Homo sapiens: one gene and its partner. The protein of the gene in region 2 interacts with the protein of the main gene of each other region in a pairwise test. Each region holds a gene or a part of one and is shown on either strand. Other genes may lie near its edges.

Region 1 (3,500 bases), about 20 Mb from region 2:
GGTAAGAAGGTGTGTGCTGGGGGTGAAGGTCACGCCTGCCCTCCCATCAGCCCCTCTGCAGGGAGGGGAAAGCCAAGGGTAGAACAACAACTCCACGAATCTCTTACATACACAGTGCTTCACAAGCTGGAGTCATTTTGTTTTTACAGAAAAGACAGATTTAATGAGGCAAATTCAATGTTTCTCAATGTGGGTGCTCTGGGATTTTGGGTGGGACATTTAGCATCCATGGTCCCTGTAACAGTGTTGGTAATACACCTGTTATTGGGACCACAAAAGCACCTTCACCCACCTCTAAATGCCCCCTGGGGGGGCTGTAATCATCTGATTGAGAACTGCTGGGCTAGATCACCTGTGATCCCAAGGCTACCAGATGGTGGAGGTGTGACTCAAACCCAGACTTGCTGACTCCCTCTCAAATGCTTTTCCTAATTCCACAATGCCTGGCCATTGCCGGCTTCTGATCTCAGCCCTGCCCTACCTAGACTGTGAAGAAGAGTGAAAAAAAGAACCTCAGGACTTTCAAGCTGGGTGCCCCGCTCAGCCAATAGCCAAGTTCCACTGGACCAATGTCCCACCTGATTGGGGCACCGCGTTCACGCCTGTTTAAACAGGGCAAATAATCAGACCTCACCTGTACCCCAGGAAGGCGGAAGGAGAACAGAGGCTGGGTCTTCAATAGGCTGAAGTTGAGGGGAGCCTCCTAGGTAGGAGGACTGGGGGAAACACGAGGGATTAGGAAGTTGTATCTGATGAGGTCCCCATGCCAGGAAGTTCCCTCCCGGCCAAACAGGGAGCAGCGGTGACATCTGGCTCTGAATTTCAGGTCTCAGGCATCTGGTCCCTGGAGGGTGAGGCCCACTGGAGCAAGTTCAGAGAAGGAGAATGACAGTTGCAGGAGGGGCTGCCTCAGGTGGATGAAAGGAGTTGGGTCTGCACAGGGCACTGGCTGGGAGTGAAGGACAGACAGCTGCTTTTTCCCTGAGTGGTGAGAACACAGAGGAGCTACAGCACAGGGCTCCCTGGAATAGGCAGGAAGGACAGCAGTGAAGACCACCGCCCCCTAAATGTGCCTCGAAAGGAGAAACCTGATGGAGGACCCAGCAGTGCCTTTAAATATGAGAATTATTTTCCAATGCTATTTATAGACTCTTCAAAGGACAAGCAGAAAAATGCTACAAACTGGAACAGAAAGGGCTACATTAGGCCAGGCATGGAGCTCACACCTATAATCCCAGCACTTCGGGAAGCCAAGGCTGGAGCAGTGCTTGAGGCCAGGAGTTCGAGACAAGCCTGGGCAAGACAGTGAGACCCTGTCTCTACCAAAAATTTAAAAAATTAGCTGGGTGTGGTGATGTGCACCTGTGGTCCTAGCTAATCAGGAGGCTGAGGTGGGAGGGTTGCATGGGCCTGGGAGGTCAGAGCTGCAGTGAGCTGTGATCGTGCCACTGGACTACAGCATAGGCAACAGAGTCAGACCCAGTCTCTAAAAAACAAACAAAAAAAGAAATGGCTATGTAATCAGTGAGTACTGTGTGTGCCAGGTGCCTGGCCCAGGATTGTTAGAACCTGGACTAGGAAGCCGCACTGGGGGGCTGGGGGTCATGACGGTCTCTGCTAGGGCGGCTTCACAGCCTCTAGAAGACACGGGAAGTTCTGCCTGGTGCAGGAATGAACAGACACCTCGTGACGTCTATGGTGGTGACTGTGTCTATCATCTCTTTCCTGAATTCACCCAAATGATCAATGAGAAGGTGGTTCAGGAAAACACAAAAGAACCAATCTGATGTTCTCCCAGCACCCAACACCCAGCCCTAGTCCACAGCTCTGATGCTTTTTAGAGGAGCTTAGTCACTTTGGAAGCTTAATTAGACTAAGCTCCAGGAGGGCAGCCCAACCTCCCCATTGGCAGCATCTTGCCCAGAATATAGCAGGCACCGAAAAGAGATTTACTGGATGAATAGAAGAAGGGAGAGGAACGAAATAAACTGTAAAGAATGCAGGGAAAAAGGAGTCTCCAGCAGCTCTCCCAGGGCTCTCCCCTCTCACTGTAATGGTAACTACTGGAAAGAGAGCAGAGAAGGGAGCTGGCTCCAGGAAGGTGTGGGATGTGGGTCCCAGTGTCTGCACTAGGCCAGCCTAGAAGCCAGTCTCATAGCCATTGGGACATTCCAGAATAAAGTGAAAAACTGTGGGTGTAGGCCAGTCTGCGATTGGAGAATGGCGTGTGGGAATCCCACTGGCTTCCTGAGACCCTGGCGTTACCTTGATGGTGGTGGTGCTGCGCTCCTCGTACCTGCACTCGCACAGCAGGCAGTAGGCCTCCACGTCATGGCCAGGCACTGGCATGGGCTCCACCACGTGCAGGCAGTTGCTACAACAGAGAGAGACAGGGCTGTCGAGGCAGGGCCACCACGTCTTAGAGCCTCAAGACCAGAGAAGCAGGTAGCCAGGGGAGCTGAGAGGTAGGGGCTAGGCAAAGGTGAAGGGTGCTCCCAGAGAGGGCCAAGGGCTTATAAAGGATTAGGCTGGCAGAAACCCTTCCTAACCCACAGCCTCACAGCCCATGCCCCTTACACATCAAAACCAGCTCTCCAAACTGCCTACAGGGCTGGCTCCAAAACCATCAACGTTCCCAGGGTTCTACCCCCAGCCGCCTTCCTCATCTCATGCTATGTTCTCCCGGCATGTGCTCATCTGTCCCAAAGGTTCAACTCAGAAGCTGACGGATCTTAGATCAGAATCTCCAGCCAGGGCCGCTCTCCTCTATGAGCTACAGGAGTCACTATGTGCATGTCCCATAGAGACCATGAACTCTACACCCGCCCCTGCACACCCTTTGCCCTCAACTCCCTACTCCTGCAAACTGGCTCCCCATTTGCAATGGCAGAGAGAACACTTCTACCGTCCACTTCACTGTCCGGGTCAAACCCTGGAAATCATCTTTGACACTGCCTTCCTCTCATCTAAGTAAAATCACCAAAGGCCAGTGATTTTACTTCCCTAAAAATTCCTAGAATCCATCTCCTTTATTCTCTCCCACTGCTGTGTCTTAGCTGAGGCCCTCATCCTATCTTCCTCGGACAACCGCACCAGCCTCCGCGCTGCCCTCCTGCCTCGAGTTTGGCCTTTCTAACACATACTACCTTCCCACGGCAGCCAAGTGGTTTTCCAGAATGCAACTCTGGTCATGTCATTCCCCAGCTTAGGCCCGGTCAGTGCCTCCACAGAGCCCCTAGGGCCAATGCTAACTCAATTGCTCTGCCAGGGGTCCCAACCCACCTCACTCCAGTTCCATCTCTTGCTACGCCTCCCTCACCCACTTTCCCAACCTCCAGCCACACGGATCTGCCAGGCTGCTCTCTGAAGGAGCCACACCCACACTCTCACCAGGAGGGCATGGCTTTGCCACCTCATCTTTTAACTCTCAGCTTAGCCACCTGTGCCCAATAGCCAGCTCCCCCCAACCCCCCGCCAATGCACTGCATTGTAATCCAATC
Region 2 (3,500 bases):
CATCTCAACTCTACTGCAAAATCTTACACAATATATCTTTCACTTATCTGCATAGTGTTCTCCAAACTAAGGAGCTAAATAATATTAAACACTCAAATTTATAATAAAGGCTTGCAAATTTGTTCTTACAACGAAACACTGGATTCTGCTTTTTAGAAAGTATTAAATTTGATTTACATTCAATTTTACTAGGCCAAAATTAACAAACAAGGGTTATTTTTTTCACAGTGACTATACCAATACAGTTTTTCAACAGTGAATAGAATGCGTGATGCCCTCGAGGAGCTCATAATCTAGTGTTAATAAAGCTAGATATGCAGACAGAGAAGGTTAAAGAACACAACATAACATATACCATCTTACTCATCAGCTTACTTATGTCATTATTTCAACATCAATCCACAGCCAAAAACCTGGAAATAAAACTGTTATCATGCTGGGTGCGGTGGCTCATGCCTGTAATCCAAGCACTTTGGGAGGCCGAGGCGGGCAGATCACCTGAGGTCAGGAGTTCAAGACCAGCCTGGTAAACACAGTGAAACCCTGTCTCTACTAAAAATACAAAAACTATCCGGGCGTGATGGCGGGCTACTCGGGAGGCAGAGGCAGGGAGAAGTGCTTGAACCCGGGAGGCGGAGGTTGCAGTGAGCCAAGACGCGCCACTGCACTCCAGCCTGGGTGACAGAATGAGACTCTGTCTCAAAAACAAACAAACAAACAAAAAAACCATCCTCGGCTGGGCGCAGTGGCTCATGCCTGTAATCCCAGCACTTTGGGAGGCCGAGGTGGGAGGATCACGAGGTCAGGAGATCGAGACCATCCTGGCTAACACAGTGAAACCCCGTATCTACTGAAAATACAAAAAAAAAAAAATTAGCTGGGCGTGGTGGCGGGCACCTGTAGTCCCAGCTACTCAGGAGGCTGAGGCAGGAGAATGGCGTGAACCCGGGAGGCGGAGCTTGCAGTGAGCCGAGATCGCGCCACTGCACTCCAGCCTGGGCAACAGAGTGAGACTCCGTCTCAAAAAAACAAACAAACAAACAAACAAAAAACTATCCTCATCAGACACACAAAACCTCCACAGCAATAAAATAGCAAAGAGCCATGGTATTTGTACCTTTTATCCACAGGAGTGGCTCACTTATACTCTGTCTCCACATGCTCAGTTACATGGTTTTCTTCAGGGTTTGTCTGATTAGAAGGTGCAAATTCTAAAAGGAGGCTAATTCTAAAAACTTGCCAACAAGGGAGGAAAAAAACTACAGAACTAAACAATCAAAATGGGTTCACTCAACAAACACTGAGTACATCCTTACTGAATACAAAGATGAAGACTACAAGATTTAAATATGATATTTTCACCCGGAGATTAGTAAAGATTTTTTTAATGAAAATCCCAGTACTGGAATCAAGGGAATTGGGTCCCTCAAACACTTTGAGGGGCAAGGGGGAATATTCTGGAGGACAACGTGGTAGTATGCATCAAACGCTTTGCTGTGCCTGCCCTCTGAATTAGCAATTATGCTCCAGGAATACAGGCTATGAAAATCAGAAGCAGCAATACAGACCTATGACAAGTAGGCTTATCACCACATTAATTGTAGTGTGATCATAAATATAATGTATCTTCCAGGATGAACATTTATATGACAAAATACAATGCAGTCATTAAAAGCTGCCACCCAGAAGTCTGAAGGATATAAAGAAATACAGATGAAAACGTCATAAAACAGGCCAGGCGCGGTGGCTCATGCCTATAATCCCAACACTTTGGGAAGCCAAGGTGTGTGGATCACCTGAGGTCAAAGTTCAAGACCAGCCTGGCTAACAGGGTGAAATGCCATCTCTACTAAAAATACAAAATTAGCCAGGCATAGTGGCGCACATTGGTAGTCCCAGCTACTTGGGAGGGTGTGGCAGGAGAATCGCTTGAACCCAAGAGGTAGAGGTTGCAGTGAGCTGAGATCACGCCATCGCCATTGCACTCCAGCCTGGGCGACAGAGTAAGACTCTGTCCCAAAAAAAAAAAAAAAAAAAAAAAAAAGAAAAGAAAAAGTGATAAAACCATATATAACGTATAATCCCAATTTTTAAAATGACCATATTATATATATAATATATATTTGTAATAAATATATAAATCCTGGCCCTTCTACGTACAAGCTTATAAAGTTGAAGTTTTTTACTAAGTTTCATTTTCCTTTTTGTGAAATGATGACAATAATAATACCTACTTCATAAGGATAAAAGAGCAATCCCTGTTGTGGGATTCTGTTCCGAACAGGACATTGACAATGTCAAAACCTCCCAAAAGGAGCTTCAAACTTCCAAGCACTAACCACTGCATGTATAAGTTACAACAGCTTTCTAACTGGTCTCCTTTTTCATCTTTCCTCACACTGATGCATCCAACACTACCACCAAATCAATATTCCTAAAATCCTAATTTCATGTCATTTCCTTGCTTTAAAAATCTGTAATGGCCTCAAGATGAGATTCTCCTTAGGCCAACATAACTTGACCCTATTTTACCTGCACTGGGAAGTATTGACAGTAGTGTGAAATCAGGTTGTTCTAATTTGAAGCCTGAGTACACCACTTATTAGCTGTGTGACCCTAGGCAAGTAAGTTAACCCCTCTAACACTTCCTCAGCTTCTCATCTCTAAAATGTGGCTAGTATTCATCATATGGGTGTTTTTACAGAGTGAAAATTCATATAAAGTGCTTACTTAGCACTTTACATGTATGCCTGGCACTGGAGATGCATCCTTTAAATGTGAGCTGTTACTACTTCCCTAAACTGTCTACTCCACCTGGGCTGCTCTTCCAGATCATTTCTAACACACATTGCCCAACTTAGGCCTTTGGCTGGTGGTGTTCTCACCCATGAGGCACCATTCCATCACAATCACCACCATCAACAAAGAGTATGTGTTCAACATTTACACTATATATTCAAGGTGTAGGCTGGAAATACAGAGGAAAAAAAAAAAAAAAACAGTCCCAAACCTCAGAGCTCATAGTCTAATAATGAAAGAGAGACAGAGGAAGAGGTCCAATAATTAGGGGTGACAAAGGAAGCACTTCCTGGAGGCAAGGGAGATGCTTACACTGACTCCAGAAAGCTGCGTGGGTGAATCAGGCAGTGTGGGTGCATGTAGAGTAAGAGCATCCAGTACAGCAATCACAGTCACTGTATTGAGTCTGGCACTGCTGGAGTACTAAGGCTAAGGGAGAGCAGAGGCTAGATCAGTGAGGTCAGGAAGTGTTGGCACTTTATTCTGCAGGCCAGCAGCAGCCACTGAATAATATTAAGTAGGGTACACCTGTCTAGGACTCTAGAAAAGCTTACACTGTGCTGTCCAACACGGAAGCCACATACAACTACTGACTGGAAATGTGGCTAGTGTGACAGAAATTAAATTTTAATTAATGTAAACTTGGTAACTGATAGCAATTCAGTTATCAAAAACCTTTTATGTATGTTTGGAACAATTAA

Evidence for each region. The genes of interacting proteins can lie anywhere in the genome.
Region 1: the proteins of STX6 (region 2) and TMEM9 interact in binary tests that used the Homo sapiens proteins (3 or more experiments, as listed by UniProt).

What each region holds. Positions count from the first base shown.
Region 1 is NC_000001.11:201,144,475-201,147,974, forward strand, and holds part of TMEM9 (proton-transporting V-type ATPase complex assembly regulator TMEM9 isoform a precursor), read right to left. Parts: intron 2,375-3,500; coding exon 2,266-2,374; intron 862-2,265; exon of another isoform or gene 635-861; intron 1-634. UniProt on the Homo sapiens protein: Transmembrane protein that binds to and facilitates the assembly of lysosomal proton-transporting V-type ATPase (v-ATPase), resulting in enhanced lysosomal acidification and trafficking.
Region 2 is NC_000001.11:181,016,371-181,019,870, forward strand, and holds part of STX6 (syntaxin-6), read right to left. Parts: intron 1-3,500. UniProt on the Homo sapiens protein: SNARE promoting movement of transport vesicles to target membranes. Targets endosomes to the trans-Golgi network, and may therefore function in retrograde trafficking.